Linked DNA regions of Homo sapiens. The protein of the gene in region 1 purifies or fractionates together with the protein of each later gene. This does not show direct contact. Each region holds a gene or a part of one and is shown in the gene's direction. Other genes may lie near its edges.

Region 1 (3,646 bases):
CCCCAGGAGCAAGGAGAGAGCTAAATGGGGCCGCAGCAGCAGGAGGGATGGAAGCTAGCCTGGGGGAAAGCCAGGGTTGGACCCCACCATCCCTCTGGCTGCCCTTCTCAGAGGGAGCTGCGCCTGCCACCCGGGAGGGCCCATGTGTCTATCATGTGGGTTCTCCCATGAGTTTGGAGTTTGGGCTTGGGACAGGGGAGACTGTGGGGTCAGCTGGCCAGGCGGCGGGGGTCATCCCCAGCGGGAATGAATGGTACGCTGGTGTTGACTGTAGTCAAGTGCCCTGTGGCACCTGGACACACCGTCTGTTCAGAAGAGGCATGAAACCTTTATTGTGGCTGTCTCTGCTCACTCATTGTTTCTGATTGGGCTATTTGAGGAACAGCCTGCCACGTTGGCCTCATTAGCATCGTGAGGCTCTTAATGGAACTGGATCCACACACGTGTACAGACACTCACAAACTCACTCAGGTACGCATGCCCGCCTGCACTAACCCCCAGAGGTCTGTGTATAGGGTTGTGCGCTCCTAAACCCCACCCCAGGTCAGACCCACCCTGACACACATGGCTTGTGACACCCATACCTTCACCCCAGTCACACTCTCACTGTCCCTTATTGGTGACTTTTCATTCACCTTGGGTGACCCACTGGCTCCAGTGGCCAAGGGCTGGCTTACTAGAGGGTGGCTGGGGGCCAGATGCCGGCAGCGGTTGGTTAAGCTTTTGGGACAGGAGGCAGCAGCATTGCCCTGGTGAGGCCACCCCCAGTGGGGCTCGACCCCCAAGCACTTTGGCTCCCCCCACGTCTCCCAGGAGAGTGTCTCTGGGTCCTGAGGCTGTCTGTCCTTGTGTAGTTCTCGTGAGCCTCTTTCTGCTTCGGCCTGTGAGTGTGTCTGGCCCTGCGCCTCCTGTGTGCTCCCCATCTGTGTCCTTTCCCCTCTCCTGACCCTGTCCTTTGTTATCTCTGTCTCTCCTCTCCACCCGTCTAGCTCTTTTTTCTGTGAGTCTTTCTATGTCTTTTCTTCTTCCTTTTTCTCTGCCTCCTCTGTCTACCCCTTCTCTCTCTGTCCCTCTCTCTCACACTCCCACTCTCAGTGTCTGACTGCGTGGCTATCTCTCTGGGTGGGTCTTTCTGTATCTTCACCTCTCTCTATATCTGCCTGTCAGTCTGGACATGTATCCCTCTGACTCTCTGCCTTAGTCTCTTGAGGAGTCTCGGCAAAAGGAGAGCCAAGAGTCCTGAAAGAAGGTGACAGCCAGGCACGGTGGCTCACGCCTGTAATACTAGCACTTTGGGAGGCTGAGGCGGGTGGATCACCTGAGGTCAGAAGTTCGAAACCAGCCTGGCCAACATGGTGAACCCCCGTCTCTACTAAAAATACAAAATTAGCTGGGCGCGGTGGCGCATGCCTGTAATCTCAGCTACTTGGGAGATTGAGGTGGGAGAATCGTTTGTACCTGGGAGGCAGAGGTTGCAGAAAGCCAAGATTGCGCCATTGCACTCCAGCCTGGGCAACAAATGTGAAACTCCATCTCAAAAAAAAAAAAAAAAGGTGATAATGCCTCCCAGGGGGCCACGATCACTTCTGGGCTCCTCCACTGCCAGGCAAGGCGGCAGGAAAGGGAATATCACGTCCTAGGGAGAGTGGATGGGCCGAGTGCAGTGGCTCACACCTGTAATCCCAGCACTTTGGGAGGCCAAGGTGGGTGGATTGCTTGAGGTCAAGGAGTTAGAGATCAGCCTGGCCAACATGGTGAAACCTCGTCTCTGCTAAAAAAGTACAAAAAATTAGCCGGGCTTGGTGATGGGTACCTTTAATCCCAGGTACTCGGGAGACTGAAGCAGGAGATTTGCCTGAGCCTGGGAGGTACAGGTTGCAGTGAGCCAACATCGTGCCACTGCACTCCAGCCTGGACGACAGAGTGAGACCCTCTCTCAAAAAAAAAAAAATAAATAAAATAAAATAAAAAGTAAAAAAAATAAAGAGCTGATGGCTCATCTCCTCTAACTCCTCTGTTGAGAACTCCGGGGTTTCGGCTCTGAACTCTGAAACTTTCTTCAGTGATGAGGCCCAGGGTCATAGGCCTGGGAGCAGGGCTGGGGGTCCAGAGTCATCACTCTGGGAGATAAGGGATAGAGCCCCTTGTCTGTCTGGTTGACCTGATTGACCTTGAACTGAGGGAAGGGTGTTGGGACTTGGAGTCTCCCTCAGAAGAGGCGTTGACCAGAGTGGGGCTGAATTGACACTTTTCTTTCTCCTGGAAGCAGTCAAGCTCAGCCCACCCACCCCGGGCCCCAGCTTCCTGCTCCAAACCACAGCTGTGCTCCCCACCCTGTTCCAAATATTTCTGCCAACTGCCCCAGGCCGAGGGGCCTGTTTAAACAGCCTCCCTGCCCTCTCCTGGCCTCCCCACCTCTGTGGCCTCCCCATCGCTCCCACGGCTTCTTGCACAGGAGCGGCTGTGTTGGCTGTTTGTTTATTGGATTAAGATTTCCTTGGGTGGGGCAAGGACTGACTCCACAGGTCCTTCTTCTCACTTTAGATGCCCAGGCTAGAGGCCAGACCCAGCTTTGGCCTTGCCCCCTGCCCTGTCCAGCCTTCCCCGGACCCCCGCCCCCCGCTCCCAGATGTCTCTCCTACATCCCAAGCCCCAGACTTCTCTACCCTTCTGATCTCAGCTCTGTTCAGTCCCGCATCTGATGCCAGCTGACCCCCTCCCCAGCCCCAAAGTTGAGTGCTCTGGCCCTGGAGGGCAGGATGGGGATGGGACACTCCCCCACTCCCTGCTGAGAGGAGAGGAAATGCCAGGAAAAGGCACTGGGAACAGGAACCCTTGGGTTTTCTAGGGGTTCCTAAAGAGGGACACATGGGGTGTGGTCTTTGGAATGTGGGAGAAGCCTGCCCACTCTCCCTGTTGGCAGAGGCTTGAGCCAGTCCTCCAGTGAGACTTTAGCAGAGGAATAATTCTCTGATGGGCTCGGGGCCCCTGTAAGAATCCATCTCCAGAACAATCTCCCTAGGACCCCAAAGGGCCTCCTATCCCCTGATTTTGTACAGAACTTTGCAGTATACAGAACTGCCTCATCCCATCCTATGAGCACCTGCAGAGATCAAAATTCTTTTTTTTTTTTGACACGAATCTCGCTTGCTCTGTTGCCCAAGCTGGAGTGCAGTGGTGCAGTCTCAGCTCACTGCAACCTCCCCCTCCCAGGTTCACAAGATTCTCGTGCCTCAGCCTCCTGAGTAGCTGGGATTACAGGCACATGCCACCATGCCCAGCTAATTTTTTGTATTTTTAGTAGAGACAGGGTTTTGCCATGTTGTCCTGGCTGGTCTCGAACTCCTGAGCTCAGGTGATCCACCCACCTCGGCCTCCCAAAGTGCTAAGATTACCGTCATGAACCTCTGGGCCTGGCTAAGATCAAAGTTCTTTTTGTAGATGATGAAAGCTCAGAGAGCAAAGGAACTTTCGCAGAATCAATCTTCTAGCAGAACCTGGACTGGAACCTGGGTCTCCTCACCCCTCACAGCCAGGGCTCCTTGCCAGACCATGCTGGAGCTGCTCCTTTGATTAAAAGAGTCACAGGCTGCAGTCACCCCTGGCTCTTCCTGAATCTCCCCCTCACCCAAAGCTCCTCTACCTT
Region 2 (3,646 bases), on another chromosome or scaffold:
GTGAGCCACTGCGCCCGGCCAGGATGCTTTGATTACCAGTTGTCTTTCTCAGGAATTACGTATGGAAATTGCAAAACAAGAATTAATCGCTCATGCCCGGGAAGCAGCATCCAGGGTCCTGAGTGCACTGAGTGGTGAGTGGCCCCAAGTCCTCCCTTCTGCAGTTCCGGGGGGCCTTGCTGGGGCCTCCTTGTGACAGTGCGCCCCTTACTGTCCCAATGTAGACCGGCAGATGTCAGAACGGATGGCCTTGGATGCCCGGAAGCGTGAGCAGTTTCAGAGGCTGAAAGAACAATTTGTGAAGGACCAGGAGGTGGGTAGGACCTGTCCCTGCGGGGTCACGCCTGTCAGTTCTGATTTCACAGGCCAGGCTCTATGTGTTTTATAGCGACGCCAGGCGGCCAGGCAGGAGGAGCTGGATGATGACTTCAGCTACGCCCGTGAACTCCGAGACAGGGAGAGAAGGCTGAAGTCCCTGGAGGAGGAGCTGGAGAGGAAGGCGAGGTAGGGCAGCCCGGGCTCCAGGCCCAGGGGTGCAGTGCGGCAGGGGCCCCATAGCTCTGGCTTAATCTTACTGATGATTTTACTTTTTGTTTTGAAAACCTTCAAACATACATTAAGGTAGAAAGACCAATATGCTGAACCCAGAGTGGCTGTGGGCGTTCTGCCTTATCCAGGCATCCTTAGCTGTTCTGCGCGTTGTCTTGTGGTGGTTTGTATGGATTAGGGTCCAGGCGAGGCCTGCGTACTGTTTGGGGTCCTGTCTCTTTATTTATCTTCTTTCTGAACATCCTTCCTTATTTATTTTTAAGTCTGTTATTGGTCTGACAGAGACAGGGCGTTTTTTTTTTTTTTTTTTTTTTTGGAAACAGAGTCTTGCTCTGTCACCCAGGCTGGAGTGCAGTGGCACAATCTCGGCTCACTGTAACCTCCGCCTCCCAGGTTCAAGCAATTCTCCTGCCTCAGCCTCCTGAGTAGCTGGGGTTACAGGCATCCGCCACCACATCCAGCTAGTTTTTTGTATTTTTAGTACAGACGGGGTTTAACCATGTTGGCCAGGCTGGTCTCAAACTCCTGACCTCAGGTGATCCACCTGCCTCGGCCTCCCAAAGTGCTGGGATTACAGGCGCGAGCCACCGCGCTCGGCTGAGACAGGGCATTTGTCCAGCACAGCATCTGCGTCTGTCTCCCTGTGCTGTTATCAACCTGTCCTGTGCTGTCATCAGGCTGTCCCAGGCTGAGTAGTGCTGGATCCTTCAAGGGGCTGTTTGGGGTTTTGGAGAGAGCCCCTCACGGGAGGGGCTGGCCGCTTCCTGCTCAGCCCCACGCGATGCTGTAGGTCCCAACCTTAGATCTCTTTATGGAGCGAGTGAGGGATGTGTGTGGAGGGGTGCGCGTGCCTGTGTGCACGTGTGTCCGTGTATGCATTTATGCATGAGTACGTGTTCATGCATGTATGTCAGTCGATACTGTCCTGTTAACACATGGAGAAAACCAGGCCTAGACACTACGTCTCTGGCCTGTGGCAGCCAAATTAGAGCTGGCCAGTCCAGGTTTGAGCCCAGTTGCCTGCTGGTGAGAAGCTCAAAATCATGGGGCACGATCGGTGAAGCAGGCTTTGAATTCAGCAAATAAAGCGTTTGTGTTGGTTTTGCTTCATGTGCTTTTTTGCATTAGTTTTCAGTTCTCAGGTTTGTACCTGTAGAAGGGGAAGAGGCCTAACTTCTTAGAGGCCTGGGGCCCTCGGCCTCCTGCTCACCCCTTGCTTCAGGCCACACAGGATCTCATTCTGGTATTTGTCCAGCAGATGTTGCTGAGCCCTGGCTGGACGCTGACTCACCAGGGTCTCCCAGCCTGGCAGGTAGAAGGGCCTGCCTGGTGCTGCCCTGTAGGTGCTGTGAGGGCCCAGAGCTATCAGCCCCTGGTAGGGGGAGACGGGGGCGGGGGCCCACTGGGGCCTCTGTTATGGAGAACCATCCTGGCCTGAGGGGTGCCAGGTAGATGGGGTGGGGTGACTCTTGTGGCCGTGTCCTCTCTGGTGTGTGGCTTCAGGCAGGCACTGGTCGACCACTACAGCAAGCTCTCTGCAGAGGCAGCTCGTCGGGAGCAGAAGGCACTGTGGAGAATCCAGAGGCACCGACTGGAGAGTGCACGGCTTCGTTTTCTCTTAGAAGATGAGAAACACATTCAGGTATGTCTGCGGCTTCAGATGGCAGCTCTTCCCCTGGGCTTTGGGGGTCTGGAAACCCCCTGAGACTGCACACAAACCTACATGCTCTTCTAGGAGAGGGCTGGTGGCTTTCGCGTTTGCGGCAGAGCACTCTCTCTCCCCGTGTGCCACCAAATTGCACAGATACAGGTGGTGAGGAGCTCGTGGTTTTGGAGTACTTTTTGCAGGCCCAGCGTCCCACTGGAGCCCAGCACAAGCCTTGTCTGGTTCAGTGCACATGGCTGCCATGGGCGGTAGGGGCTGTGGCTTTGTGTGGGGTAGGGCTGTGCTTGACTCCGGCTTGGCCAGTCACCCCTCTGGCTTGAATTTCAGGAGATGCTGAAAGCAGTGTCTGAGGCTCACCAGCCCCAGGAGCCGCCAGACGTCCTCTTGAGCGTGCACCCCCAGGTAAGCGGCAGAGTGGAACCCAGGGTGCCCTATGGTTTTCCCATAGCCCTCGGCACCTGGTGTTGGTCATGGCTGCAGAGCTGAACTTGGGGGACAGTTCGAGGGCTGGGGGGTCCTGAGACCAGACTGGGTCTGATGTCACCTGTGTTTCAGGTCACGTCTCCGGGCCCTGAGCACCCAGAGGGAGGCCAAGGCTGTGATTCTGGGTCTGCAGAGCAACACTCGCCTGCCTGGGATGGCTGGAACAGGCCAGGCCTGCTGACCCCACAGCCCCTTAAGCCTCTAGCAGTGGGGGCTGGTGGCAGGGGGCTGCAGCAGGCGGAGGGGGCCAGACCCTTCTCTGACAGCCTCAGCATTGGAGACTTCCTACCTGTGGGCCCAGGGGCTGAGCCGTCCGTGCAGACTGGCATGGTCCCTCTCCTGGAGGTGGCGCTGCAGACCATTAACTTGGACCTGCCCCCCTCAGCTCCTGGGGAGGCACCCGCAGCAGCCAGCACTCAGCCCTCCAGGCCACAGGAGTACGACTTTAGTACTGTCCTGAGGCCAGCTGTGGCCACCTCACCTGCACCAGGGCCCCTGCAGGCTGCAGAGTGCAGCTTGGGCAGCTCAGGGCTACAGCTGTGGGAGGACAGTTGTGGGAAGATGGATGCCTGTGGCTCCGCCTCGCGGGAGACTCTGCTCCCCTCACACCCACCCAGGCGTGCTGCTCTGGAGGAGGGGAGCAGCCAGCCCACAGAGCGGCTCTTTGGGCAGGTGTCAGGGGGTGGTCTTCCCACAGGGGACTACGCTTCTGAAATAGCTCCCACCCGGCCACGGTGGAACACCCACGGGCACGTGTCTGACGCCAGCATCAGGGTCGGGGAGAATGTGTCAGATGTGGCTCCCACCCAGCCACGGTGGAACACCCACGGACACGTATCCAATGCCAGCATCAGCTTAGGGGAGTCTGTGTCAGATGTGGCTCCCACTCGGCCACGGTGGAACATCCATGGACATGTGTCCAACGCCAGCATCAGGGTCGGGGAGAAT
Region 3 (4,237 bases), on another chromosome or scaffold:
AAATAATGTGTTTGTATGAATATAAAGAAATGTATGGAAGGAAACTTATCAAATGTTAACATGGGTTATTTGGTGTTTAGGGGGAGCTTGTTGGCTTTTTCTTTGTTGTTTTTGATTTGTTGTCCCTAGCAGGATTTTTGGTTTGAAATGAAAATCCGATAAGATATCTTTTTAAAACGACTTTTCTTTTTAGTCTTTCAAATGCTTGTTTTAATGTGAATAAAAGAAATGCATTTGCTTGAGTGCTAGGTAAAACCGATGTGTGAGACTCAGGGTGGGTGGTGTGATTTGTGTGGTATGCATACGGCAGGGCTTGTAGCTTTACCAGATTTTGAACAATGACTGGGTTTTCATATTGGTGTAGTACAGCCACCTCGAGAAGATAAAACATTGCATAACACAGTTCTTTAACGTCTGTCATCCCAAGGTTTTCCATGGGTAAAATGGAGATTACAAATATCTACCACACAGATAGGGCTTTTTATTGTGAAATGACAAAAGGATTTTCAGAGTGTTAAAGTTTTAGCTGAATAGCTTTGGTTGAATTCTACTTTACAGTTTTGAGTAGCTATGACACACATCATTGCCATAGGGATCAAAAGGTGCAAGGTGACAGGATAAAAGCAGGCAAAATCTTGACCATACAAAGCATTATATTAACGTGCTAGGCGCGAATATAACCTGTTATAATATAATGTTGTTATTATTATTTGAGATGGAGTCTCACTCTGTTGCCCAGGCTGGAGTGCAGTGGTGCAATCTTCCCTCACTGCAACCTCCGCCTCCCGGGTTCAAGCAATTCACCTGCCTCAGCACCCCCTAGTAGCTGGGACTACAGGCGCGCGCCACCGGCTATTTTTTGTGTTTTTAGTAACGGGGTTTCACCCTGTTGGCCGGGCTGGTCTCGAACTCCTGACCTCAGATGATCCACCCACCTCGGTCTCCCAAAGTGCTGGGATTACAGGCGTGAACCACCGCGCCTGGCCATATAATGTTATTATTGAAGGCACAAATGATCAGGGAAGACTTCATGAAGGAGGTGAGACAATATAGGTCTTAAAAGGATGAGCGGTTTGGAGAGGACAGGCACAGAACCAGCAAAAGAGTGAAGACGGCGCTGGAGTTTTTTTTTTTTTTTGCCGCACGCCTTCGCCGCCACCACGCGGGAGCGCCCCTTCCGGGAGCCCGCTCCGCCCGGCTCTTCTCGGGCTTCGGGCGAGCGCGGTGCCAGCGGTACGCAGGCGCCGGGAGCCTACGAGGGCTCGCAGGAGCTGGGAGGCGCGCATGCGTGCAGCTCTTTGGAGGCGGTAGCGTTTTCGGCGTCGAGACTGGAGGCTGAGTGCTAAACTGTGTGGGGCGCGGATGGGATCCAGCTGTTAGTCGGGTAGGCATAGGTAGGACCGCTGCCCTGTGGGGAGTAGGGGGTTGGAAGGCGGAGGCCGGTATCGTGGGGGTCCTGAGCCCTTCCTGTGAGATCCGGGCCGACTATTGTATCTGTGTCGCAGCGGCTCCGCACAAAATGGCGGCGGGCAGACGGCGGGGGCGGGAGGAGGTTGGGGGACCCCCGGGATGGGAAGGGAAGCTGTGCTGTGCTGCCCTGCTCCGTCGTTTATTCACTTCGCTACCCGGGAGGGCCCGTCCGGGTACTCGTGAAGGACCCTGCCTCGAGAAGAGCTGCCTGACGCCGTTGCACTGGGCCGAGGATCGTGAAGAGCCCTTTGGCGAGGCCGAGGCGGCCCCTTCCCCAGCAGCGCCCGGCCTGCCGAGGCTGCGCTGGGCCTGACAGCCGAGGAAGCGGTGGTGAGGGAATGCCGAGCAGGGAGGAAGCGTTCCCGTCGGGCCCGAAGAGGCGGTGGAGTTTGAGCCGAGCCCTCTGACCAGCGACATTGTGCAAGAAGCGTGGAGAGAAGAGCGTGTTTGTGTTTGGGGTTGGGGAGGGGGTGTCGGGATGAAGGAGGGAATGTTAGGATCCAGCGGCTTTTCCGGGCTGGTGTTCTGTGCTGCGTAGTGCAGGTATGAAACCAAAGAAAATATCACCTCTGTGGGAGACTGAGGACTCATAAATGGTTGTGATACCTAACAGTATTTCCAAATTTCTCAGAGGAATTGTGAAAACAGAACGTTAGTGAATTGTTTTTGTGTGATTCTTAGCTTGGGCCCCGTTCTCTTAAAGGAAGGGGGAATGTATATATCACAGACTGGAATCCTTGAGAACGTTTGAAATAGATCTTTTGTTGTTTGAGGTAATTGTTAATGAGGGATACTTCAGTATTACAAAATCATGGATTGAGCTATAGAGTGAAGGCTACCTGAAGCTAATTTTTCTTAATCTTAAAATTTGTCCTTAGGCGAAGTTTGGGGCCAGGACCAGAAATTGTAGTAGTTTAAAGGAGTCCCGATGAAAAACTTGTCACCAGGATCCAGCGATTTATGTTCAAGTACTTTTTCCAACGAGCTCTGGAATTTTGCACAAAAAATTTTCTGCTTTTTCCCCTCATTTGTTGTAAAGGATTATTTTTTCAGGGATGTTGTGCTTGCTGGTTCAGATTTACAATTAAAAATTGATAACCTGGAGAAAAGGATTGACCAAAAAAAGGTGAATTTAAGGAAGTTTTCGGAGAAAAACAAACATGTAAATGACATTCAAATAGCTTTAAATTTTGTTAATGATTAGACATTTGAGACTTAGTGGACTTATGTTGCTGTCTTTTAAAAAAGTTTGACAGCATTTTATATTTTATTTTGTACTCCATATTCTGTAATATGTACTTCTAAATAATTACAGGGCGTCCCAGCATGTTATACATTAAAATATGCTGGGCCATTCCTTCCTTGGGGATTTATTTGTCTTGGAACCAAGAAAGGGTAAATATAACAGTTGGAAGAAATCACAAAATCTTATTCGTTTTTATTAACTAGTTTTCATAATGTGTTTATGGTCACATATTTATTGTATATTGGTTGTATTTGTTTTGTAATCCTTTTTTGCATTTTGTTTTGGAGGGTGTATACGGCAGGTACTCTAGGTTAAAAAGGTTTAGGTACTGTAGTTTAAAAAAGTCATCACTTTGTACTTGACTATCTTAGGGTTTTTCTTGGGTGCTCTTAAGTAGGTGATCTCCGGAAATTTTGTTTTTATGTAAGTGGAAGAAAATGAGACAAGTAGTTTAGTGGAAAGAGAATAGGCTTTGCAGTCGGAAGATCTGGATTCACATCTCCCTTTTCCTCAGTATGTGTGAGACTTTGGTAAATTATTTTAGTCTTTCTTGAGCTTTTGTTTCCTTATCTCTAAAATGGTGACATTATTACTTCCTGCTTGGGATTTTTGTGAGTGACTGTTAAGTGAGACAGTGTATGGAAAGCTCGTATTCCTTGGCACATACTAGGTGCTTAATGTTAGCTGTTACTTGTATTTCAAAATTGAAGTGCTTAGGCAGCATTGTTTGATAGAAAATTATAATCTGTGGGTATTCTCTTCTAATTAAACGGCTTAAAAGGATTTAGAGTAATAGAATTTTGGAGTTGAAAGGCCCTCTAATCTAACTTTCATTAAAATATTTTGTGCTTCTATAAACTTTTTACATGCCTTTCTTGTAGAACTTATCAATATATATTGTAACCATTTATATGATTGTTACGTTAGTCTTTGTATCTTTCCCAGTGCCTGGTATGTATTAGATGCTCAGATGTTGAGTGAATGAACTCAGCTGGTAGTCACCAGAGCCTGGACTCTAAATCATGCTCTTTCCACTGTACCTTAATGTATACTGATTAAGGTTTGGACTAAATTTGTCCAAATCCTTAATAAAATGCCTTATATACTTAGAAACAGTACTTCCAGTATTGGTACCCAGTAACATAGCTTGGGCTGTTTTGCAAGGAAACAGGCGCTAATGAATGCTGCCATGTAGTGGTTTTAGAGACTCTCCAAATTGAAAGTAATTATGTTTGTGGCTAAAGCTAATAAGCCCTCATGTGTATCCAGCTTATCTACTCTTAATTGCTTTAACTTTGTTTAGTGTTTTGAAATTTGTGATGGAAAATTAAAATGGAAGGAAAATAAGTATATAGAAGATGAGAAGAGAATAATGGAAAGGAAAAAGAGTGAGGAAAAGGTGAGATGTAGAAATAAAACACACAACTGTAATAATGCGGGTGAGGGCCGGGTGCGGTGGCTCATGCCTGTAATCCCAGCACTTTGGGAGGCGAGGTGGGCGGATCAGGTCAGGAGATCTAG

The links.
Region 2: the proteins of ZNF385C (region 1) and TUBGCP6 purify together in Homo sapiens (affinity purification with mass spectrometry, with the first as the bait; one large-scale study listed by BioGRID). This does not show direct contact.
Region 3: the proteins of ZNF385C (region 1) and ZNF638 purify together in Homo sapiens (affinity purification with mass spectrometry, with the first as the bait; one large-scale study listed by BioGRID). This does not show direct contact.

What each region holds. Positions count from the first base shown.
Region 1 is NC_000017.11:42,091,891-42,095,536, reverse strand, and holds part of ZNF385C (zinc finger protein 385C), read left to right. Parts: intron 1-3,646.
Region 2 is NC_000022.11:50,220,999-50,224,644, reverse strand, and holds part of TUBGCP6 (gamma-tubulin complex component 6), read left to right. Parts: intron 1-52; coding exon 53-134; intron 135-224; coding exon 225-313; intron 314-388; coding exon 389-504; intron 505-2,052; coding exon 2,053-2,191; intron 2,192-2,542; coding exon 2,543-2,617; intron 2,618-2,770; coding exon 2,771-3,646. UniProt on the Homo sapiens protein: Component of the gamma-tubulin ring complex (gTuRC) which mediates microtubule nucleation.
Region 3 is NC_000002.12:71,330,482-71,334,718, forward strand, and holds the start of ZNF638 (zinc finger protein 638), read left to right. Parts: upstream 1-1,300; 5' UTR 1,301-1,394; intron 1,395-4,237.